7 linked regions of the Homo sapiens genome follow. The protein of the gene in region 3 purifies or fractionates together with the protein of the main gene of each other region. This does not show direct contact. Each region holds a gene or a part of one and is shown on either strand. Other genes may lie near its edges.

The links.
Region 1: the proteins of RNMT (region 3) and NFIC fractionate together in Homo sapiens (co-fractionation; one large-scale study listed by BioGRID). This does not show direct contact.
Region 2: the proteins of RNMT (region 3) and CLINT1 fractionate together in Homo sapiens (co-fractionation; one large-scale study listed by BioGRID). This does not show direct contact.
Region 4: the proteins of RNMT (region 3) and RXRA fractionate together in Homo sapiens (co-fractionation; one large-scale study listed by BioGRID). This does not show direct contact.
Region 5: the proteins of RNMT (region 3) and EPS15L1 fractionate together in Homo sapiens (co-fractionation; one large-scale study listed by BioGRID). This does not show direct contact.
Region 6: the proteins of RNMT (region 3) and ITGB4 fractionate together in Homo sapiens (co-fractionation; one large-scale study listed by BioGRID). This does not show direct contact.
Region 7: the proteins of RNMT (region 3) and DLD fractionate together in Homo sapiens (co-fractionation; one large-scale study listed by BioGRID). This does not show direct contact.

Annotation. Positions count from the first base shown.
Region 1 is NC_000019.10:3,376,583-3,380,082, reverse strand, and holds part of NFIC (nuclear factor 1 C-type), read right to left. Parts: intron 1-3,500.
Region 2 is NC_000005.10:157,810,646-157,814,145, reverse strand, and holds part of CLINT1 (clathrin interactor 1), read left to right. Parts: intron 1-918; coding exon 919-1,083; intron 1,084-3,500. UniProt on the Homo sapiens protein: Binds to membranes enriched in phosphatidylinositol 4,5-bisphosphate (PtdIns(4,5)P2). May have a role in transport via clathrin-coated vesicles from the trans-Golgi network to endosomes. Stimulates clathrin assembly.
Region 3 is NC_000018.10:13,740,173-13,743,672, forward strand, and holds part of RNMT (mRNA cap guanine-N(7) methyltransferase), read left to right. Parts: coding exon 1-107; intron 108-1,337; coding exon 1,338-1,519; intron 1,520-2,315; coding exon 2,316-2,480; intron 2,481-3,500. UniProt on the Homo sapiens protein: Catalytic subunit of the mRNA-capping methyltransferase RNMT:RAMAC complex that methylates the N7 position of the added guanosine to the 5'-cap structure of mRNAs. Binds RNA containing 5'-terminal GpppC.
Region 4 is NC_000009.12:134,406,455-134,409,954, forward strand, and holds part of RXRA (retinoic acid receptor RXR-alpha), read left to right. Parts: intron 1-105; exon of another isoform or gene 106-1,038; intron 1,039-1,694; coding exon 1,695-1,845; intron 1,846-2,485; coding exon 2,486-2,665; intron 2,666-3,500. UniProt on the Homo sapiens protein: Receptor for retinoic acid that acts as a transcription factor.
Region 5 is NC_000019.10:16,360,471-16,363,970, reverse strand, and holds part of EPS15L1 (epidermal growth factor receptor substrate 15-like 1), read left to right. Parts: intron 1-1,986; coding exon 1,987-2,192; coding exon of another isoform or gene 2,193-2,201; exon of another isoform or gene 2,202-2,393; intron 2,394-3,500.
Region 6 is NC_000017.11:75,741,959-75,745,458, forward strand, and holds part of ITGB4 (integrin beta-4 isoform 1 precursor), read left to right. Parts: intron 1-382; coding exon 383-531; intron 532-623; coding exon 624-803; intron 804-1,754; coding exon 1,755-1,903; intron 1,904-3,500. UniProt on the Homo sapiens protein: Integrin alpha-6/beta-4 is a receptor for laminin. Plays a critical structural role in the hemidesmosome of epithelial cells. Is required for the regulation of keratinocyte polarity and motility.
Region 7 is NC_000007.14:107,897,683-107,901,182, forward strand, and holds part of DLD (dihydrolipoyl dehydrogenase, mitochondrial isoform 1 precursor), read left to right. Parts: intron 1-3,500. UniProt on the Homo sapiens protein: Lipoamide dehydrogenase is a component of the glycine cleavage system as well as an E3 component of three alpha-ketoacid dehydrogenase complexes (pyruvate-, alpha-ketoglutarate-, and branched-chain amino acid-dehydrogenase complex).

The sequences.
Region 1 (3,500 bases), on a different chromosome or scaffold from region 3:
CTTGCAGTGAGCCGAGATTGCGCCACTGCACTCCAGCCTGGGCGACAGAGCAAGACTCCATCTCAAAAAACAAAACAAAACAAAAAAAAACTAGGGTCGGCGGCCAAGCATGGTGGCTCACACCTGTAATCCCAGCACTTTGGGAGGCCACAGTGGGTGGACTGCTTGAGCCCAGGAGTTCAAGACCAGCCTGGATGACATAGCGAGGCCCCGTTTCTACAAAATCAAAACTTAGCTAGGTGATGCATACCTGCAGTCCCAACTACTTGGGAGGCTGAGGTGGGAAGATCAATTGAGCCCAGGAGGTCAAGGCTGCAGTGAGCCAAGGTTGCGCCATTGATCTCCAGCCCGGGTGACAACGTAGTGAGACCCCTGACTCCTGACTCAAAAAAAAAAAAAAAAAAAAAAAGAAAGAAATAAAAAAAAATGAAAAATGAGGCTGGGCGCAGTGGCTCACGCCTGTAATCCCAGCACTTTGGGAGGCTGAGGCAGGTGGATCGCTTGAGGTCAAGAGCTTGACACCAGCCTGGCCAACATAGTGAAACCCCATCTTTACTAAAAATACAAAAATTAGCTGGGCATGGTGGCACACGCCTGTAGTCCCGGCTACTCAGGAGGCTGAGGCAGGAGAACCCAGGAGGCAGAGGTTGCAGTGAGCCGAGAGCTCGCCACTACATTCCAGCCTGGGCGACAGAGTGAGACTCCGTCTCAAAAAAAAAAAACCCGGCTGGGCGCGGTGGTTCATGCCTGTAATCCTAGCACTTTGGGAGACCGAGGCGGGCAGATCAAGAAGTCAGGAGTTCAAGACCAGCCTGGCTAACATGGTGAAACTCTGTCTCTACTAAAAATACAAAAATTAGCCAGGCGTGGTGGCGCATGACTGTAATCCCAGCTACTTGGGAGGCTGAGGCAGGAGAATTGCTTGAACCTGGGAGGTGGAGGTTGCAGTGAGCCAAGGTCACTCCACTGTACTCCAGCCTGGGTGACAGGGCGAGACTCCATCTTGGGAAAACAAAAAACAAAAAAACAAAAAATGACTACGAAAGCTTGTTCCTACAGAGCATATGTACAGACAGGCCTGGCTGAGATCCACAGGCAGACACTAGGCCCGCCTGGAGGTTGAGGGCTGCTGGAAGGGTGGGGGGATTTCTGCATCAAAAGATAAGAGATTCAAGTGCACCAGGATTAATCAGAGGGAGGAGAAATCCCGGGTGGAGTCCTCTCCCTCCTTTCCCCTTTCCATGAACCCACTGTGCTGATACAGAAACAGACCAGAGAAGCAGACGCTCAGCCACAAAGGTTCAGAACTGGGGAGAGGGGCCACCCCGTTCCCTGCAGACCCACCCTGGAGATGGAAAATCCGAGGGCTGGGAAGGCGCTGAGACTGGGCCAGAGCTGGGACTTCAACCTACTCCCAAATCATGACAAATTGGTGTCTGAGGGCAGTCACAACACCCATGCTACAGATGAGGAAACTGAGGCCTTGAGGGGGAACCCGGCCATGGGGGACAGAGGTGGACTGGAACCTGCACTCATCTGACTTCCCCACGAAAATAACAGCAGCCCCTTGAAGAGAAATGTGGGGCAGTGGGAGGCCCCCAGCTCCCTGTCTGGGTGTGGGGAGGCCCCTCCCATTCTTCCCATTTTCCAGCAAGGGAAACTGAGTCTGCATAGCATTTGGGATCTCAGCTGGGGACTATGGCTAACGCCTGTAATCCCAGAACTTTGGGAGGCTGAGGTGGGTGGATCACTTGAGCCCAGTTCAATCCCAGCCTGGGCAACATGGCGAAACCCCATCTCCTTTTTTTTTTTTTTTTTTTTGAGACAGAGTTTCACTCTTGTCACCCAGGCTGGAGTGCAGTGGCACAATCTCGGCTCACTGCAACCTCCGCCTCCCAGGTTCAAGAGATTCTCCTGCCTCAGCCTCCCGAGTAGCTGGGATTACAGGCACACACTATTACAGCCACACACTATCATGCCCAGCTAATTTTTGTATTTTTAGTAGAGATGGGGTTTCACCATGTTGGCCAGGCTGGTCTTGAACTCCTGACCTCAGGTGGTCCACCTGCCTCTGCCTCCCAAAGTGCTGGGATTACAGGTGTGAGCCACTGTGGCCGGCAGGCAAAACCCTATCTTTACGAAAATTACAAAAATTAGCTGGGCATAATTTTTGTGGTGCGCGTCTGTAGTCCCAGCTACTTGGGAGGCCGAGGTGGAGAGATCACTTGAGCCCAAGTGTTTGAGAGCAGCCTGACCAACATGTCGAAACCCCGTCTCTACTAAAAATTACAAAAATAATTAGTTGGGCATAGTTGCTGTGGCGCACACCTGTAGTCCTAGCTACTTAGGAGGCTGAGGTGGGAGGATCACTTGAGCCTCAGAGGTCGAGGCTGCAGTGAGCTGTGATTGTGCCACTGCACTCCAGCCTGGGGGATAGAGTAAGACCCTGTCTCTAAAAAAATAAAAAATAAAATAAAACAAATTAAAAACATCTGGGACCTAGTTTCTCAGCCTCAAGGTGGAATAAATACAAGGAACAAGAAGAGAAAGAGAAGCAAAACTGCCTTTCCATCTCCCTGCCTTGACCAGGCTGGGCTGGGCATTTCGGACAGGGGTGATCCCTTCCTAGCACAGAAAGCTGTTTTCCTCCCCCCAGCTCTCAAAGGACTACATTGTTATTAATGATGCGATGATTGTTATCATTACAACTTATATTGCTATTGGATTTTTTTTTTTTTTTTTTTTTTTTGAGACAGAGTCTCGCTCTGTCACCCAGGCTAGAGTGCAGTGATGCGATCTCAGCTCACTGCAAACTCTACCTCCCGGGTTCACGCCATTCTCCTGCCTCAGCCTCCTGAATAGCTGGGACTACAGGCACCCGCCACCATGCCCAACTAATTTTTTGTATTTTTTTTTTTAGTAGAGACGGGGGTTCACTGTGTTAGCCAGGATGGTCTCAATGTCCTGACCTCGTGATCCGCCTGCCTCGGCCTCCCAAAGTGCTGGGGCTACTGTGATTTTTATTACTTTTTTTTTTAAGAGATGGGGGTCTCAGCCTGGTGTGGTGGCTCACGCCTGTAATCCCAGCACTTTGGGAGGCCGAGGTGGGTGGATCATCTGAGGTCAGGAGTTTGAGATCAGCCTGGCCAACATGGCGAAACCCCATCTCTACTAAAAACACAAAAAATTAGCCAGGTATGGTGACAGGCGCCTGTAATCCCAGCTACTCGGGAGGCTAAGGCAGGAGAATCACTTGAACCCGGGAGGCAGAGGTTGCAGTGAGCCAAGGTCGCGCCATTGCACTCCAGCCTGGGCAACAAGAGCGAGACTCCGTCTCAAAATAAATAAATAAATAAATAAAAAAGACAGGCGTCTCACTGGAGTGCAGTGGCACGATCTTAGGTCACTTGGGCCCTGAACTCCCAGACTCAAGCGATTCTCCCACGTCAGCTTCCTGAGTAGCTGGGACTACAGGTGCAAACCACCATGTCTGGCTAATT
Region 2 (3,500 bases), on a different chromosome or scaffold from region 3:
AGTTGGAGTTGTCAGTCACCTGAACCAGCTTAGAAGCTTCTCTGCTCTAATTAGAATGTGACTGTTGCTGGTTGTGTGACGAGTGCAGAATCCAAGACGTGGGGCCCTAGAGTATTAATTAGTGAAGACAAGAACTTGCAGAAAAGACTGGCTAATAACAACAGAACCAACACAACATGAGTGTTCGGGTTTATATTAAAATATGCACTGGAGACTGGTCCCCTGTGGTGTCCATAAAGGAATAGCTTTAATCATATGGGAAGAAAAGGTTAGAGCTCCAAAACACACACATCTGTTTGAAGCTGGGGTTTTTTTCCCTCCCACCAAATAATATTTACTGTGCAAAGGCAGCAAGGCCACAGTGTGTTTTGAATGTGAAAGAGGCTAGAAAATGAAGCACATTTCATTTTGTAGCGTACCCCACTTGTAAGCACTTTAAAAATTCAGTTTTTGAGCTATGCTAAAACCTCATAATTAGTGTTCCAGACGTGTACTGGGGAAACCAAGACATTTGTGTGCTTTTCAGTTATTAACATGCTAAAGTGGTTCTTCTTTTGATTTGTTTTCTTAAAATATGATAGAAAAACACAATAGCACTTATGGATATGTCTATTTTGTGTGGTCATCATCAGTAATCCTTTTTAGGTCAATCTTTAATTGACCTTGCATAGTACCATTATCTGTGGTCCTTTTTAGTTCATCTTTACATGCTCTTATAAGCCAAAATTCCATTTTAGAACTTAGAATTTGCTGAAGAGGAAATGACAAAGTTAAATAGCACAACTTGCCCCTTTCTATTGTTTTTTAAATATTGAAGTTTCTTATGTTGAAGTTTTTGTGTCTTTTTTTTAATCTTAAAGAGCTTGATACATATTAAGTGAATTCTTAGGTTTTGCTTATCTCTTACCATCCTCATAGATGAGCATGGTAAGGATCAAGGTATAAATATTCGACAGAAGGTGAAGGAATTGGTTGAATTTGCCCAGGATGACGACAGGCTTCGTGAAGAGCGAAAGAAAGCAAAGAAGAACAAAGACAAGTATGTTGGGGTTTCCTCAGACAGTGTTGGAGGATTCAGATACAGTGAGTATCAAAGACAAGCTGACACCTAAGCATCAGCTTAGCTTCTTGAGTATATTTTAAGAATCAGTGAAATACCAAAGACCAAAATGCTAATTTTCTTTTCTAGGAATACATAGAATACTAAAATACACGCAGTACTAATCTTGACTTCTACTATCACATGAATCTTCCTATTTTTAACTTGTGGGTTCGGCAATAGGATTTTAACCATTAATGGCTAATTAAATGACTGCATATTTTGAGGTGTCATACAGAGATTAAAACAGATATATGCCCTTCCCTCTTAGGATTGCCATTTTAAAAAGAAGGGGGAAGAAAGTTTCTATAACTCAGAGTTTAGAGTATAAAAATAAAAAGTTTGATCAGGAGATCCATCTTTCTAATTTGAAACCAATTTAGCTGTATTTTTGGCCCAAACCAGATAAGCTTCCTGACAGTCATTCCAGCCTCAGTCTCTCTTTCTTTATTTAAGCATTGCATACTTTGACATATAAAAGATGACTGACGATACTCGCAGTTTTTCATCTAGGCCTATTGTTTTGTTTATTCTTCCCAGTACACTTAAGAGCAGCTAGAACATTCATCTTTCATGTTTATTTTTAATATAATAATATAGTTTCTCTAAAATAGGGCATAGGTGCTTGAAGCAGATACACAAAATAGGAACTGTCTTTCACGGCATGTCCCTTTGGACTTGTTCTGTCTTCTGTGAGCTCTGACAATCTCTTGCTCATTTTGTGTATGTGCAGACTGGCCAGTGCTGTGTATCTTAGCAGCTGTTCACTGAGGCTCTCCAGCTCCCCCCACCCATATATGTTTATATTTGGATTATATTGAGCTCTCATATCTCCTTCAATGGAACCATGTAAAAATCTTAACATATAAAATATCCTTACTCATTTATTCCTCTGCTTTCCCACTCTCAAAGAAAAAACACTGCGTTTAGTTAGCTGTTTAAGGATGTTTCTAACAGCAGAAAAATTCCCTTTTTTATATTGAAGCATCAAATACAAGTTAGTTTTTTCTTTTTCTTTTTTTTAAATAGGGCTAACTCATAGGCAGTGCAACCAGAGTCGGCCACAAGTTAGTTTTTGAATTGGGCAAAAATATTTCTCCTAAAGCATATAAATAATGTTTTGAAGTTTCTATTTGGGGAAGTCCAAAGTTTTTGGATTATTTACCCAAGTAGTAACTTTATTCTTCAGGTTTTTCAAAGTAGTTGTAGCAACTTAATGTGTTTTTAATAGAAATTGCTATTTGAAACTTATTTCCACACTATTCTTGCTTGTATCTTTCTTTTTGCCAGCATGATATATAATTATATCAGCTAAACTTAGAAAATTGAATACGTTTTCAAACTCAGTCACAATGCACTAACTGCAGCATCTGTATTAAAGATAGAGTTGGATATCCTGTGTGTTTGCATCACATCCTTTTGCTAAGTTATTGTTCATGGTTTATGTTATTCAGACTTAACTAATCACTCTTAGCAGTTTTGTGTTTTTTCTTTTTCTTTTCTTTTTTTTTTTTTTTGAGGATTCTTGCTCTGTCATCCAGGCTGGAGTGCAGTGTTACCATCTCAGCTCACTGCAACCTCCGCCTCCCGGGTTCAAGTGATTCTCCTGCCTCATCCTCCCAAGAAGCTGGGACCACAGGCGTGAGCCACCATGCCTCGCCAATTTTTGTATTTTTAGGGTTTCGCCATGTTGGCCAGGCTGGTCTTGAACTCCTGACCTCAAGTGATCCAGCCACCTTGGCCTCCCAAAGTGCTGGGATTACAGGCATGAGCCACCGCACCCGGCCAGTTTTGTGTTTTTTCATTCTGACATTAGATAATGTCTTGCCAATATCCAGTATCTTTAGCAGTAATTCAGTATGATGTTCACCATGCCATGCTAATCAGTTTGGTTTTCATCCACTTCCATTTTTCGTGTAAATTTGTTTCTTTCCGAAGTCTGGTTCATCACACTGTTGTTGAAATGTACATACACATTGTTGGAAAATCACTTTTTTTAAAAAAACCATCCTGGTTTAAATTTTGTCTAGAAAACTTCATTTTGTCATGTTTTCTTTAAGTTGATGGTCATTTCCAGATTCAGTAAATATGTTAAAATCCTTAAACATGTAACAGAAAATTTTAGCCTTGCAATTTTAGGAGGCAATTCAGCAAAATCGTTTTGTTCAATCTCCAAAGGCTATGTATCCTTTTAGATCCTGTAAACAAAAGTTCAAAACAAAAGCTCCATTAGCCACTTTTTAGTTATTTTGTTGTTTCTCATTGTCCTTTTCATTTTCTTCCAACCTGCCTTAATTTTTAATGTTTTCTTTTTTAAAAATACCTCACGTGCTCTCTGTACCTTCTACTGTTGCTTCTTAAGTTGGATTTGGACATGGAAATGGAAGGGTTTCATTTTGTG
Region 3 (3,500 bases):
CCGATGTTTCTGTCAAACAGTGTCAGCAGCGGTATGAGGACATGAAAAATCGTCGTGATAGTGAATATATTTTCAGTGCAGAATTTATAACTGCTGACAGCTCAAAGGTACAGTTTCTTTCTTTGGTCAATTTATTTTTTACATTTTTAGTTTGGGTAAATAATTTGTTTTAAAAATCAACTCAATTTTTACTTTTTTAAAAAAATTTACTCTTATTTTTTGAGACAGGGTCTTACTCTGTCACCTAGGCTGGAGCACAGTGGCACGATCTCAGCTTACTGCAACCTCTGCCTCCCAGGCTCAAGTGATTCTCCTGCCTCCCAGCCTCCTGAGTAGCTGGGACTACAGGCACATGCCACCACACCCAGCTAATTTTTATATATTTTGTAAAGATGGGGTTTTGCCATGTTGCCAAGGCTGGCCTCAAACTCCTGAGCCCAGGTGATCTGCCTGCCTCCCATAGTGCTGGGATTACAGGCATGAGCCATGGTGCCCGGCTACTCATTTTTTAAAATGTGTTTTGAAACTTTAAAAATCTTGGAATATGCATTTTCACTTTTGACTGGAAATTCTATTATGATAAATTCCCTTGAATGACTCACTGAATACTTGTAATTTTTTGCTTTTAATAATTTGAATTGAAATTAGCTGTTGCTTTTCGGTATGGACATCATTTATTTTCCAGTATTTTGAAATAGAACTGAACTTATACTATGTTTTGTTCACCTTGTAATTTATTAGTTTCCCAACATATCAGAGCCTGTTTGGTTTTTTCCTACCTTCCACCTGTTTCTGAATTTCTTAAAAAGAACTGCTTCAAGGGTGAAAGTCTCACCATGAACTTTTTGTTCTTCATTGACTTATTGACTCACTGAACTGTTATAGATACCTTTAATCATACACATTTTGTTTGAAATTTGAAAGTGAAAAAGATAAGTGGGAGTATACTGCCAGAAAGTTGTAATACCTTTAAAACATTTTTGCATTTTTTAAAAAATGCCAAACGCCAGATGTTTTTTAACTCAAGTTATTGTTGAATGTCATTTTATTTTAGCTGTCAAGTAAAGTGATGAAAGGATCAAGTTGAAATGTCATAATTGACTAATATATTTTAAACATGATTTCAGAATTCCTCAGTTTTTAAATACTGTGAAAGTGGGAATCAAATTATTCTGTTAAACTAGAATACATGCATGATTTCTGTGTGTCCTTTATTGTACAAGGGAAAGATTGTGAGGGAAAGGAAGAACCTTACATTCTAGAAGTTAATTTACTAAAAAGTTTTTAATCTTTGTTGTAGTTACCTCACAATCTTAACTCATTTTAATTTGTTTCAGGAACTTCTGATTGACAAATTTCGTGACCCACAAATGTGTTTTGACATCTGCAGTTGTCAGTTTGTCTGTCATTACTCATTTGAGTCTTATGAGCAGGCTGACATGATGCTGAGAAATGCGTGTGAGAGACTTAGCCCTGGGGGCTATTTTATTGGTACTACTCCCAATAGCTTTGAATTGATGTAAGTACTTCTAAATATATTGTGGTTTATAAAATATTCAGTATTAAGTAGCAAATGTTTATCAGAGGTAGATTTTATTAAAATACGCTATTTTAATCTTATAAGTGTTGAACACTTTCATAAGATATTTGAGTAGACATTCAAAATTTAAATTCAATAGACAAATTTACAGGTGAACTTTTAACAGTTCATCTTTGTGTGTAAGTTAGAGACTGAAGTTATAGTGATAGACAAACTGCAGGTCAGATACACAGGCACAGAGATGAACCAGCTGTCATGAGAGTGATACCTACTTCCAGCTTAATTTTATTGGTGTGACTGTTGGTGATCTTTTAGTATATTGCTTCTTAAAAGTAGCTCAAATCAGGAGAGTGCAGTGGCTCATGCCTATAATCCTAGCACTTTGGGAGGCCAAGGCAGGAGGATTGCTTGAGGCCAGGAGTTTGAGACCAGCCTGGACAACATAGTGAGACCTTGTCTTTACAAAAAATTTACAAATTAGCCAGCATGGTGGCACGCCCCTGTAGTCCTTGCTCAGGAGGCTGAGGCAGGAGGATCACTTGAGCCCAGGAGTTGGTGGCTGTAGTGAGCTATGATCACACCACCACACTCCAGCCTGAATGACAGATTAAGACCTTGTCACTTTAAAAAAAAAAAAAAAAGGTAGCCCAGATATAATTAAAAGGCTAATCAAGTGTGCATCATGTAGTTTTTCACATGCATAATCTGATCAAAATAAGTCTACACTAATCACAATTTTAATCTTTTTATTTTGGTTGGGGGATAACCTTGATAGAAGACGCCTTGAAGCTTCAGAAACAGAATCATTTGGAAATGAAATATATACTGTGAAATTTCAGAAGAAAGGAGATTATCCTTTATTTGGCTGCAAATATGACTTCAACTTGGAAGGTGTTGTGGATGTTCCTGAATTCTTGGTCTATTTTCCATTGCTAAATGAGTAAGAAGTCATTAATCTGTTCACTCTTTTCTTTTTGTCTTAAGGGAAAGAAAAGCGGGGAAAAGCAATATTTATTTTACTCTTTATTTTAAATGAGGGCTAAAGAAAAAGTATAATCTTGTTTTTTTGTTTTTGTGTTTTTAAAAAAAAAAAACAAAACAAGACTAGCTTCACATCTAGGGGATTATTGCCATAGGTCTCATAATAGCCTAACTTAGTTTTCTCTCATTCCTGGAATTTTTTAATCCTGTGGGTGAAAAAGGGAACCAGTTGCCTTCAGCTTGTGGCACAAAATGCCTGACACTGCAAATAGCAAAAGTTTTTTTTTTTTTTTTAGTGACTACTGGTAACTTTGATGATAAACAATGAGTCTTCATAAATCAAAGATCCGGCCGGGCGCGGTGGCTCACGCCTGTAATCCCAGCACTTTGGGAGGCCGAGACGGGCGGATCATGAGGTCAGGAGATCGAGACCATCCTGGCTGACACGGTGAAACCCCGTCTCTACTAAAAATACAAAAATTAGCTGGGCATGGTGGCGCGCGCCTGTAGTCCCAGCTACTCGGGAGGCTGAGGCAGGAGAATGGCATGAACCCGGGAGGCGGAGCTTGCAGTGAGTCGAGATCGCGCCACTGCGCTCCAGCCTGGGCGACAGAGCGAAACTCCGTCTCAAAAAAAAAATAAATAAATAAATAAATAAATAAATAAATAAATAAATAAATCAAAGATCCTCCTTTTGACAGAGATGAGTATTAAAAGTTGTTTGCATTTCACTATAACTTTGAAATTGCCTATGTCTCACAGGCAATGTTGATGATAAAATCCTGATTCAGGAATGTATTCTCCCATGTGCCTGAATTCCTAGGAGTCCTGGCAAACTGTAGACACAGGAAAAGCTGGGGGTAACTGGGCCTTACCAGGTAAGGCTTCAAGGCCTTGTGATACACCTTGGTTTCCAGAGTTTCCCCGGTGGGGAGAGTATAAAAGTCAGCTTAAATGTAGGCCATGTCATGATTGATTG
Region 4 (3,500 bases), on a different chromosome or scaffold from region 3:
ACGAGGAAACTCAGGCTCACAGTGATTAAATCATTTTCCGAATGTCACACGAGAACGTAGGAGGCAGGCAGAATCCGGAGCCAGGGATCCGCCTCTGGGGCCTCCAGTGCCTCCAAGCGAGACAGCCACTAGACCAGCGAGCCCTGGAGGGCTGGGCAGGGCCTTGTCCCCTGGTGCCTCCCGGAGCCCAGCACGGGGCAGGGCCAGCTGGGCACTTAGTTTGGACGAGCTCTGTCCCTCCAGGGGCTTCACTTTCGCCTTCTGCAGCGTGGGGGATCATGTGTGACCTTGGCCAGCCCCTGACCTCCCTGAGCCGCAGCCTCTGCATCTGGGACACCCAGGGTTTCCCATGCAGGGAGTGTCAAGTGTGGGTGCAAAGCCCAGGCACCGCACCCCTCTGCAGACGTCTGGGGCTTTCTCTTGCCCCTTCAGTTCCCTCCCTTCTCTGAGAAGCGCACCTGCTGCCTGTGGACATGAACACTGGGCATTTGGTGAGTCACACAGTGGCCACCCGCTTCTCCAGTGGGAGCTTCATGGCACCCCCACTGTGCTGAGTTGTCACGGGGGACCTCCTGGCCTCTCGCAGCCCACCTGAGTCCTGCAGGGACCAAGCATCCTTGTAAAGCCTCACAGCCCACCTGGGCAGATCGAGGAAGAACCTAGAAGCCAGAACAAGCTGGGGCTGGAAGACTCATTCCAGGCACCGAGGTCCATGTGAAAGGAGGCTTTGCGGTGGTTTCTGCTTTGCTTGCATTGAGCCTCAAACTCTTCCTGTCCCGTGAGAAGGGGGGATGGGATTTGGAGGCCTGAGGAAGGAAGGAGGGGAGCTTCCTGCGCACAAGCGGCGGCAGGGGTTTGCAGAAGTGGAGGCTGGGGGCTGCCTGGCCAAGCGCTTACCGCCCTGCGCAGCCAGGCTGGCTGGCAGGCTGCAGCGGGAAGCGCCTGTGGGTCCTCGGCGCTGACTGCAGAGCTGGGTGGAGGCAGCGGAACCAAAACTGCTGTGTCACTGCACGCTGCAGCTGTTGCCAGGGTGACCGGGTGAGTTTCCCACGCTTGCCCGGGCGGCAGCGTGCGGGCCGGCGGGTGGGGCGGAGGGGTGTGCAGAGAGGCCAGTGGTGTCGTGCCACCCGATGCCCGGGGGTGTCCACTCCCCTCTCCTGGGTCACGTGACCAGGGCCCCTGCCCTGCGGTGTTGTGGGGTGTATGTGTGGTTCTTGGGGGGGTCCCCAGCCCTCCTCCGTCCTGGGAACTGGGCTTCGGCGTCCTCATGTGTGGGTTGGGACCCCCCAGAGTGCCTGCCTCATGGAGTGTCCGGGGGCACCCAGCGGGGCTGGGCACTGCCAGGGGCTCAGTAATGAGAGGCAGCTCTCATTTAGGTGGGCAGCGGGCAGGGGGTTGCAAGCAGGGACCGCCCATGTGTTGGGGGGGGTGTTGAAGGTCCTTTTCCACAGAGGCCTGGGGTCTGCTGCGGGCGAGTCCTGAGGTTGCCACAGCCTCTGCTGGCCTTGCTGAGCAAGCACAGTGGCCCCGCTGCTCCGGAGCAGCGTGGCGGGTGGGGGGCACGGCCCTCTCTAGCCTCGGTGTCTGTGTGTGAAGTTGGGGGTACAGCTGCGCCATCCTTGCTGCAGGGCCGTGGGGGACATAGGGACAAACCTGGTGTACACCCCGCTGACTGCTGTGGTTGCCCCCCCCAGCTCAGCTCACCTATGAACCCCGTCAGCAGCAGCGAGGACATCAAGCCCCCCCTGGGCCTCAATGGCGTCCTCAAGGTCCCCGCCCACCCCTCAGGAAACATGGCTTCCTTCACCAAGCACATCTGCGCCATCTGCGGGGACCGCTCCTCAGGTACCGCTGCTGTGGGGGCCAGGGGCTGGTGGGACAGGGTTGTCAGGCCATTGCAGGGTCTGGAGGCCTCCCCAAATCACCCTCCTGTGGGCCAAGCAGGACCCAAGGCCAGGGTGCAGGGAGGCAGGTGCCTGGGCCATGCCCCACTCCCAGGGCTCCGCGAGGCCATTCCAGGGTTCTCACGTCTGTGGGACAGTGAGTGTTGGGTGGGGTGGGGCACAGGGCAGCCTGAGGCTTCCGGAGAGGAGGTGGCTGCTGATGGCAAGGTCAGCATGGGGGCAGCCAGTGCTGCGCCTCCTCCCTTGGCTGGGTCTGGGCAAGGGGCCCGTGTTGTGCCACTGACCCCCAACGGCCTGAGAGGGAAGAACGGGCTGCACAGTGCAGACACAGAGCAGGTGACTTGCCTGGGGCCCTGGTCCCTGGTGGGCTGGGATTTGTCCCTGCCCCACTCCTAAGCTGTCCTCGGAGGAGCAGAGAGAGTGAGGCTGGGGCCCAGTCTGAGCCCAGGCAGGGGTCTGGAGACCAGCAGGTCCCTTTCTGAGGCCTGGCCCGCCAGCTGGTAGTGGCGGCGTTGGATGGGGGGTGGGCTCCCTGCCGGGGCGGTGGGTGCTCCCCAGCCCTGCTCTGCCCTGTCCCGCAGGCAAGCACTATGGAGTGTACAGCTGCGAGGGGTGCAAGGGCTTCTTCAAGCGGACGGTGCGCAAGGACCTGACCTACACCTGCCGCGACAACAAGGACTGCCTGATTGACAAGCGGCAGCGGAACCGGTGCCAGTACTGCCGCTACCAGAAGTGCCTGGCCATGGGCATGAAGCGGGAAGGTAGGCCACGGCGTCGGGTGGGGGCGCGGGCAGGTGTTGGACAAACAGTGGGGCCCGGGCTTGTGCGTGGACACCCGAGATGGACAACAGGGAGTGAGTGGCCTGGACAGAAGCATGGCAAGGCCAAGGCAGGAGTGGGGGCGGGGCCCAGCGCGTGGGCACACGTGCGGCCCAGAGCGTGGGCACACATGGGTCCTGGGCGGCATGTTCTGGCTGGCGTTGGCTGTCCGGTGAGGGGATGGTCAAGGAGACCCTCAGGTGGCACTGCTTAGGTTGGAGAGGTGGAGCGGGGGCATCTTCTGAGCTGTTGGATGCCAGGGGTGGTCCCGGGCCAGCTTCCTCCCGAGGCCAACTCTGTGGCACCCCGCAGGGCCGCCGGATGGCCCCCAGGCTCTTGGAGCAGTTCCTCCTTTCCTTTTGTTTTTGTGCTCGTCTTATTAACAAATCTGTGTCGGGGCGGTTTGCAGGGAAGTCCCTCCCCCGATGTCACCAAAATTGTCAAGTCATCCAGCCAGACCTGGGTCGGAGTCCCGGGCCCCACAGGCACTGTGACTTCCCAGTCCTGGCTGGCTGTAGTCCTCAGTTTCCCCATCTGTCACATCCCCTTTCCCTCTCAGGTTTGGCGATTCCTGGCCTCTTAGTGGGTCCCTGGGTCATGGTTTGCACACACGTTTGGGGGTGTGCCTCAGTTCCTCCCATCGGGTCCCGTGCCCTGGGCCTTGTGGAGGTGGGAGGTGCTGTCTGGGGTGAAGATCTGTTGGTCTGTCCCTGTCCCCCCGCTCTGCAGGACACCCTTCCTCTGTCCTCTGCTGTGCTGCTCCTGAGGCCCAACACC
Region 5 (3,500 bases), on a different chromosome or scaffold from region 3:
GAGGCGGACAGGCAGGCCGCAAGGGTGGGCTGCAGGGGAGTTTGTCTCCGAGTCCTTCTGTGCAAACCGTGGGAAGGAAGACTGTTTTTCCTTGAATATGCAAAAAGAAAGCAGCAGTCCTTATGCTGGCCCAGAACTGCCGGTTGAGAGAAAAGTGAATTTCCATTTCCAGAAGTAGGGCTACAGGCAAGGGGGGGCTACGGGCCAGGTTCTCACTGGCCTATGCTGGGCACGGCGGTGCAGGACACTGAGTGGGAGGAGACTCCTGGACCCCAGGAATGTCACCTTGTTTGGCGCCCTCCTTCTCATTTCCACTTCACAGATAAGGAAACGGAGGCCAGCTGGGAGGAGGCACTTTCCCTTGCCGAGGCCCAGAGCTAAAGGTGGCAGATGGGGGCTGTAGCCCCGGAGCCCACAAGGACACCTGGGGCCTCAAAAATGAGGCCTGGGATGGCTGATCTGCTGGGGGAACAGAGGGAAAGGCTTTAGATCTGGGCATGGAGAGGGACCGAGGCTGGCCTGTGTGGGCTCGTTCTACCGGATGAGGAAGGCAGGTGTCCCAGGCTCAGGTGGTGGGCGGGGCAGGTGTGGCTGGGAGCCAGGGTGCTCTCTGGAGGTGCAGCCAGAGATCCAAGGTCAACCCTGGAGGGACAGGCAGTTCCTGGTTTTTTCTAAACATTAGCTTCGAAACTTCCAGAGTTAACACGCCGGAATCGTGTTGCATATTATTGAGCTTCCAGTCTGGGGTGCTGCGTGGACCACGTTGAATGCCCAGGGACTCCGTTGGGCAGATAGAGGGGTGTCAGGAGCATGGAGTCAGCCCGGCTGGCCTGCAAACTGCAGATGCTGGAAGGCCCGTCAGGTGGGACCTCCCGTCACCAAGCAGATCTTAACAGGCCTCTGCTTCTTGGTGGAATGTTCTGGTACATTGGCAGGATGCACTGGGAAAAGCTACCATCCTCAGGCCATGTCCCCCACACAGTGTCATTTTCCTCCATTTCTGAACACTTCTCTCTCACCTCCCTGTCAAGATATACCTTGCTGGGACCGGGCATCCTGGAGTTCCCTGCTTGGCAGAAGCCCAGAAAGGCCCAGATAAACGCTGCCCCTTGGAGCCACCAACACCAGAGGGACAGAAGTGGGGGCTAAAAAAGAACTTAAGGCCAGGTGCAGTGGCTCATGCCTGTAATCCCAGCACTTTGGGAGGCTGAGGCGGGCAGATGACTTGAGGGCAGGAGTTTGAGGCTAGCCTGGGCAACATGGCAAAATCCCATCTCTACTAAAAATACAAAAATTAGCCACGCATGGTGGCTCATGCCTGTAGGAGGCTGAGGTGGGAGGATCGCTTGAGCCCTGGAGGCCAAGGCCGCAATAAGCCATGATTGCACCACTGCATTTCAGCCCAGGTGACAGAGCAAGACTCTGTCTCTGAAAAAAAAAAAAAAAAAAAAAAAAAAAAGAACTTAAACCTCAGCATGGCAGAGCTGTGTGCAGACCCTTATAACTAACACACCGAATAACCATACCACGTTGTGAAACTAATTCCTCCTTTTCATTTGCAAGTAACTCTCCCCTCTGCCTTTTTTTTTTTTTACTGTTAGAAGCTTGCAGTGTATTTTTCTGCTCAGCCATGATTTTTTAAATTAGTATGTTAATAAATGTGTTGCCATGCTAAAATGAATCTGTTTGAAACGTACCTGCATGCAAACTATTCTAGGACAACTCAAGTTTTAGCTGCTCTGTGTGCGTTGTGTATGGGAGTCATCTGAAGTGTTTTTCCTGTGTTGTTCACAACCCGTTAAGCCCCTGGGATAAAGCTGATTAAAACTGGGATTCCCCAGGGTACCCCCGTCCAGCCTGTTAGCCAAGTTACAAGCTTTTCTCAGAGAAGCGCCCCGGGCTTGTGCCCACCAGCATTCTGCTCTGTCCGGGTGAGTAACTCATATTTCTTTCTTTCTCCTTTTTTTTTTCTCCTAAACTTTCCAGGTAAAAGTACACCTGTAAGCCAGCTTGGTTCCGCAGACTTTCCCGAGGCCCCCGATCCATTCCAGCCACTCGGGGCTGACAGCGGCGACCCGTTCCAAAGTAAAAAGGGGTTTGGGGACCCGTTTAGTGGAAAAGACCCATTTGTCCCCTCCTCTGCAGCTAAACCTTCTAAGGCCTCTGCCTCGGGCTTTGCAGACTTCACCTCTGTAAGTTGAGTCCTCCGCCTCCGGGCCACCCCACTCCCTTCCGCTTGCAGCTTCCCTGGGATTTTTGTCTCCTTTTAAAGGCAAACCTCCCAGCTTCTTTAGCCTCTTGGTACCTCACACTCTCTGTCCCTCGCGTTATTTATTCTACACTGCCACTTCTGTAAGAAAAACAGTTTCTCAATAAAAAAAAAAAGAGCCGCAGTTTGGATGCTCTATCATAAGGGCACGTTTTCTTCCAGCAGGGAGGCGGGACCTATCTGTCCTTCACGGTAGATTCATTGTATTATTTCTGACGCACCGAGGCTGTTGTGTTCACTGGTTTTTGGAAGCCAAGATGTCAAACACTTCCGAAGTATGAAAAGAAGATTGCGAAAGTTACATTAGGGTTCTGCTGTCCCCAAAAAGCCCTTTGTGCACAAGTTCTCACAGTCCCGCCCCATGCATTTTGTGCCACAAGTGCAAATTGAAGGACTTCAGGCAGATCGCGCCAGGGAAGAGCAATTTGAAGTTTTTTTTTTTTAAAGCTTTTAAATTTCAGTTACCAGCTCCAATGAAAAAAGAAATCCAGTCTAGAACAGCCACTCTGAAAGCCAAAACAAAAAGAGCTCCAAAAAACTGTTGAGCAAAGTTAAGTGCCTTTTCGGAAGCAAATCTCGGGATTTCGAAAGCCTGGCTTTGTTTTTCTCTGTGTGAAAAAATATTCCAGATTGTAACATGCCGTCGCTTCAAGGAGTTTTTAGCAGCTTCCTTGATACATGAAAATCTTGTTCTCTGAAAGCTTCAGGTGTTGTCTTCCCAGAATTGGTTTCACTATGTGTGATGCCCTCGCTTTCTTCCTTTGGGCTTGTTAGTTCCTTCATCATTAGGTGTGAGATGTGTTATTTATAGATGCTTCGACTCCTGGGATGGCTCTTTGAACACAGCCCTGCCATGTCAATGCACAGAAAGCACCCGATTTGTTTCTGAGCCGTCTTGATAATCTCTACCGTGCACAGCTATCCTATGGCTTATTTGTCAATTTATTTATTTTAGTGACAGGGTCTCGCTGTGTTGCCCAGCCTGGTCTGCATTGGCGCGATCAGAGCTCACTTGTAACCTCGAATTCCTGGGCTCAAGCGATCCTCCTGTCTTGGCCTCCTGAGTAGCTGGGACGACAGGCGTGCAACACCACGCAAGGCTAATGTTTAATTTTTTTTTTTTGTAGAGGTAGGGTCTTGCTGTGTTGCCTGGGCTGGTCTGGAACTCCTGGCCTCAAGCGATCCTCCCACCTTGAAGTACTGGGGTTACACGTGACTGGCCCATGTGGCT
Region 6 (3,500 bases), on a different chromosome or scaffold from region 3:
AAGCTGAGGCTCAAAAGGGTTAAGTGACTTGCCCAAGGTTACCCAGCTATCGAGAACTAGAACCAGGGCTAGGGCCGCGGCAGCCTGGCCTGAGCACACACACCCTTAGCATCTTTGCTGTCCAGCCCTTGATGAGGTGGGCAGAGAAGCCCATTTCACAGAGGAGGACGCTGAGGACAGGGAGGCGCCATGGCTGGGCTGAGGCTGCAGGGTAAAGGGTATGGGGCTGGCATAGGCCTGGAGCACTGCCTGCCTCTGAAGACCCTGCACTTCTTGCTGTCTTACATCCTGGCCCCTGAAGGGGAGAAGACAGGCAGGAGGGACAGGGCAGCAGGTGCCAGCCTGACCCCTCCGCTGCCTGAACCTTCCACCCTCGACCCAGGCAAGACCACACCATTGTGGACACAGTGCTGATGGCGCCCCGCTCGGCCAAGCCGGCCCTGCTGAAGCTTACAGAGAAGCAGGTGGAACAGAGGGCCTTCCACGACCTCAAGGTGGCCCCCGGCTACTACACCCTCACTGCAGACCAGGGTAGGAGGGCGGGTCCGCTGTGCCACTGCCTCGCACCTCCCGCCTGTGTGGCCCTGTGACCCACCTCTGACCACCTCCGAACCCCCACCCAGACGCCCGGGGCATGGTGGAGTTCCAGGAGGGCGTGGAGCTGGTGGACGTACGGGTGCCCCTCTTTATCCGGCCTGAGGATGACGACGAGAAGCAGCTGCTGGTGGAGGCCATCGACGTGCCCGCAGGCACTGCCACCCTCGGCCGCCGCCTGGTAAACATCACCATCATCAAGGAGCAAGGTGGGTCTGGGTGGGGAGAGTGGGGAAGGCAGACGGGGGCTCGGGGGCACTGGTTCCTCCTGCTTAAGTGGAATTGCGACCTGGCCACGTGGCCTGGGCTAGTCACTTAACCTCTGCAAGCCTTGGTTTCTCCATCTGTAAAATGGGTAAGGGCTCTTTTACGGAATGCGTGGCTGTTCACCTCGCCACAGTGCCTGCCTGGTGGTGAGCGCTCAGTAAATGGAAGCTTCTGTTGCATCCTCATAAGGGCCAGCCCCTTGCTCCTCTCTATCTAGAAAAAGGGTTGGCCAAGGCATCACACCGTGGACATCTGACCCCTCCTCCCACCTGTGCCGGAAGCCACAGGCCTCAGGCCTGTTCCTGCTCTCCTCCAGCCCTGGGGCTGAAGGCTCCATCTCTGGTCCTGCCCGTGACTGGCCTCCCTCCTCTGCCTGGCCCTTCCAGGATGTCTGCTGGACACTTTGTTCCAGAACCACTTTTTTTTTTCTTGGGACAGAGTCTTGCTCTGCCACCCAGGCTGGAGTGCAATGGCACCATCTTGGCTCACTGCAACCGCTGCCTCCCAGGTTGAAGTGATTCTCCTGCCTCAGCCTCCCGAGTAGCTGGGATTACAGGCACTCGCCACCACGCCCAGCTAATTTTTCTATCTTTAGTAGAGATGGGGTTTCGCCATGTTGGCCAGGCTGGTCTCGAACTCCTGACCTCAGGTGATCCACCTGCCTCAGCCTCCCAAAGTGCTGGGATTACAGGCACAAGCCACTGCGCCCGGCCCCTCATCTTTTTCTGGAAGGATTTTCCGTTTCGCTCCTGTGCCCTTCCCAGAGGGCAATGCATAGAGGGAACCAAGCGGACTCCTGGATTCTGGGCTGGGCTGGGCAGGGTCACAGGAGAGCAGGAGGTGGGAAGGGACTGGGCCCAGCACACTCTGACAAATGCCCGGGCTCCTTGCAGCCAGAGACGTGGTGTCCTTTGAGCAGCCTGAGTTCTCGGTCAGCCGCGGGGACCAGGTGGCCCGCATCCCTGTCATCCGGCGTGTCCTGGACGGCGGGAAGTCCCAGGTCTCCTACCGCACACAGGATGGCACCGCGCAGGGCAACCGGGTGAGGCTGCGCCACAGGGTCGAGGGTGCAGCCCGGGGGGCTGCGTGGGCACCGCATTGGGTTCCCAAGACAAAGCAGCACATGGCAGCTGCTTGAGTCCCTGGATACTGGCCGTGCCCCTGGCTGGCCTCCCAAGGACACGTCCACCTGCTCCTGCCACCCTGTGGCAGGGGAGTCTCACCTGCCCAGGGTGCCAGTGACACGCTGGATGAGGCTCCATTGCTGCCAGGGACTCAGGCCAAGAGGGCTCGCTCTTTTTTTTTTTTTTTTTTTTTTGAGACAGAGTTTCGCTCTTGTTGCCCAGGCTGGAGTGCAATGGCACAATCTCAGCTCACCGCAACCTCCACCTCTCGGGTTCAAGCGATTCTGCTGCCTCAGCCTCCCTAGTAGCTGGGATTACAGGCATGTGCCACCACGCATGTCTAATTTTGTGTTTTTAGTAGAGACGGGGTTTCTCCATGTTGGTCAGGCTGGTCTGGAACTCCCGACCTCAGGTGATCCGCCCGCCTTGGCCTCCCAAAGTGCTGGGATTACAGGCGTGAGCCACCGCGCCCGGCCCAAGAGGGCTCTTTCTTCCTTCATGGGCCAGGGACCTGCCCAGACCATTCCTGTCCCCTCCTACAACTCAGGATCCACAGGGTAGCCAAACCTCTTGGAGATAAACTCCCCCTATATGCCCCAGTCCAGGGGGCTTTGGGTTTCTTGAGCTGGGATCGAAGACCCCATGTCCCCAGGCCAGACTCCCCAAGGGCTGTCACAATTTGCCAAGCAGCAGGAGCAACCCTTCAAGGCAGGGAGTGCCATGGCTGGACCAGCATCACCTTCACTGCTGAGCCCCAGTGCTGGGGTACAGCCAAATCAGGTGGCACACAGGCTGGACTGGGTTTACAGGCTTCATAGTTTTGTTTCTTTTGTTTTGTGTGGGGATTTTTTGCTTCTTAATTTTTGGGGGAGACAGGGTCTTGCTATGTTGCCCAAGCTGGTCTTGAACTCCTGACCTCAAGTGATCCACCCACCTCGGCCTCCCAAAGTGCTGGGATTACAGGAGTGAGCTACCACGCCCGGCCTAGTTTTTGTATTTTTAGAAGAGATGGGGTTTTGCCATGTTGGCCAGGCTGGTCTTAAACTCCTGATCTCAAGTGATCCGCCCACCTCGGCTTCCCAAAGTGCAGGGATTACAGGTGTAAGCCAGTGCACCTGGCCTTTCTAGTTTTTAAATGTTGGCAACAAATCCATAATTAAAAACAAAGGCGGGGCATGGTGGCTCACACCTGTAATCCCAGCACTTTGGGAGGCTAAGGTGGGAGAATCACTTAAACCCAGGAGTTCAAGACCAGCCTAGGCAACGTGGTGAGACCATGTCTATACATATAATTTAAACATTAGCTGGGCATGGTAGTGCATACTTGTGGACCCAGCTACTTGGAAGGCTGAGGCAGGAAGATCACTTGAGGCCAGGAGGTTGAGGCTACAGTGAGCCATGTTCATGCCACTGTACTTCAGCCTAGGCAACAGAGTAAGACCCTGTCTAAAAAAATAATAATAATTAATTTTTTAAAAATCAAACAAAAAAACAAAGAAACAAAACCTGGCTCAG
Region 7 (3,500 bases), on a different chromosome or scaffold from region 3:
ATTCTCATGCCTCAGCCTCCTGAGTAGCTGGGACTACAGGCACGCACCACTATGCCCAGCTAATTTTTGTATTTTTAGTAGAGATAGGGTTTCACCATGTTGGCCTGGCTGGTCTTGAACTCCTGACCTCAAGTGATCCACCCGCATTGGCCTCCCAAAGTGCTGGGATTACACAGACTGACTTCTTGAGATACATCTTGTAATTATATTGATGATTACAATTGATTTGTAACACAATACCTTTATTTCAGTGGTAGCCTGGATAACCAGGTGCCTTATTTTCCTTATAATGATCTAATATGTAACACTTGTAGGAATTTGTAGAGTACTTTTCTTGACTTTTTTCTTTGAGTTAATTTTAATAACATTAATTGCCTTGTTTAAGTCAGTCACCTCTTATTGTACTCCAGTATTTTTAAAGTATCAACCTGATACTTTAAACCTGGTAGGAGCACACATTTCAGAATCTAAAGGACCTTGTTTGAATCACTTCACTGAAACACAGATTGCTATTCACCTGTCATTTGCCACTTTTCCATCAGGTTTGCCTTAAATAAATGTATTTCATTTAACTACTTTTCTGTATCCTTTTTTTTTTTTTTTTTTTTTTTTGAGACAGAGTTTAGCTCTTGTTGCCCAGGCTGGAGTAGTTCAGTGACACGATTTCAGTTCACTGCGACGTCCCCCTCCTGGGTTCAAGCGATTCTCCTGCCTCAGCCTCCCGAGTAGCTGGGGTTACAGGTGCTTGCCACCACGCCTGGCAATATTTTGTATTTTTAGTAGAGACAGGGTTTCACCATGTTAGTCAGGCTGGTCTCAAACTCCTGACCTCAGGTGATCCACCTGCCTCGGCCTCCCAAAGTGCTGGAATTACAGGTGGGAGCCACCACACCTGGCCTGTATCCTGATTTTTTAACTTTTTTTTTGAGACAGAGTCTTGCACTGTCGCCCAGGCTGGAGTGCAGTGGCGTGATCTCGGCTCACTGCAAGCTCTGCCTCCTGGGTTCACGCCATTCTCCTGCCTCAGCCTCCCCAGCAGCTGGGACTACAGGTGCCTGCCACCACGCCCGGCTAATTTTTTTTGTATTTTTAGTAGAGACGGGGTTTGGTCTTGATCTCCTGACCTCGTGATCCGCCTGCCTCGGCCTCCCAAAGTGCTGAGGATTACAGGTGTGAGCCACCACACCCGGCCCTGATTTTTTAACTTTATGTATGGGACTCAACCTGTGAAATTATTCTTGACAAGGAGAGGGTGAGTCAGAATCATGTGTTATCAGCTTTCATTTATATGCATCCTTTGGTACAGGTGAGAGGTAGATGATTTGTTTTTCTGACATTTTATTATGAAAAATTATAAGCATTTAGAAAATTATAAGAATTTTACATTGAACACCCATAGTTTTCTTCCATTAACATTTTCTGTGCTTACAGTACCACATATGTGCTCATTCGTTTATCCATCAGTGCAGACGTGTGTATACTTCCCCTAAATACTGGTTTGTTTTTGAAAGTTTGTTCCTGGCTTATACCCTCCTGTATTCTCAGTTGACAGATCTTTACATAAAGAGTCTGCTTTTTTCTCATTTTTGTGCATCTTAGCACTTTAGTGGTATTGTAATGGAATATTACATCTAGTATGTACAGTGAGAGAGGAGCTCTTGAATTTTTGGTATTTTCTGAAGTTTAAAAAAAAACACCTAAGATTACATAGTGAATAGGGAAGTAAAACCCAAGGTTTTTGGCTATTATCTTTTATCTCTTGTTTACTTCTCCTGACCTTACTAAAACAAGTTCTTTTCCAAACCAAATTTATTTATCATTTTAGTACCATGGACCTACTATAAGAATTGTTACATATCAGTGATTAAAAGTATATGCTCAAAAATACATATACTTAAAATCTAAAATATTTAATTCAGTTTTATTGTCATTAAAAGGGTTTTTGGAGAATTATAGCAGTAATATATGTTATAAATATATATGCTCATGTAAGAGTGAGAAAAGAATATAAAATATGGCAAAAATTGAATTTTATAAAAACTTTCCTAGAAGAAGGATTGGGAGGACCTATAAACAGTTCTCTCTGGGCTGTATGGCAATGTGGATGGGTTGTTTTTTTTTTAATTTTGCTTTAGTGTATTTAAATTTATTCAGTAAACCTAAATTTTTAATCAGAAAAGACATTAAAAATTCAGCAAAGAAACCTGTTTTGTAGCTTGTATTTACATTACTCTGAAATTAAAAATTAGAACCCATTTAAGGGATGTTGTGTAGATCGTCATTTGGTTCAAGATTTGAAAATAAAAATACATTTTATTAGATACTTAATTCTGAACCGAAATCAGTGAACCAAGCAGGGTGGCTAAAAAGCACAGATGGATCAGTAAAAATTGAAGCAATTTTTCATGTATTGAAATGACTATACATATTTTTTCATGTATTATCTCAATTATCATCTGCTATAACCAAAGAGAATCTAGTATTTTCATTTATTCAACAGGAGGGATTCTTAGATTTTGTGGATAATTGGGCTGAGTAACTTAGTTATCCACCAACACAGAGGTTCTGTGATTCTGTTCAGGCCAGCAAAGGTTTTTTGAATGATCCTACTCTAGGGATGTGTGTTTTTGGGGAGAGGGGGTGATGCAAATTAAAATAGTCTTCTTTGTAGGTCAGAATATAGCTACTATGTATAGAATACTTATTATGTATGCTATAGGTACTATGCTAAATTATTTACATACATTATTTTATTCTGTTATCACCCTATGAAGTAGGTTTTTTTTGTGGTCTTTCTTTTGCCAGGTATGGAAACAAAGATGAAGCAGGTTAAATTACTCACCTAAGGTCACATAGGTAGTGATTATAAAGCTTGATTATTGCTCTCTGGAATTTTAGTTTATGATGGTTAAAACTGAGGAATGGAATAGTATTGAATAATGGAAAGACCACCGGAAGTAGAGTCAAAAAGCTTAGTTTGTCTCTGCAACTCACTTGCTGGTTAACCTTAGACAAGTTAATTGACCTCTCTGAACTTCTTGTTTATTCTGTGAAATGTCTTATTTATGACATCTTTATCTTCCTCATAGGAAATTCTGAGACTCAAACATGATAATATATGTGAATATGTGTTATGAATTGCTAAATGCTAGACTAGTTGGGGTTGTCAGGACAGTGGAAGGGGAAGAAAAGGGAGACTGTTTCCTAACTCTTAACAGTCACTGTTACTTTATTTGAAGTTGGATTGAGAAGAATGGGAGTAATTGGACTTACTTGCACATTTGTATTACAATTGTTAAACTCCTAAGGATACTGATCAAAATTAATTTTCAATTTTTTATCTTTATTTGAAAAATGGCCACAATAGTTAATTGAATATTCTGGTTAGCCTATTATCTTAAGGTATGTAAAAATTATCAATATGCAAGTACAAAACATATTTGTTAAATATTACATAGAAGCTGTTTTTTCCCTCATATTTCAGAAGTTAAGGACCTGAA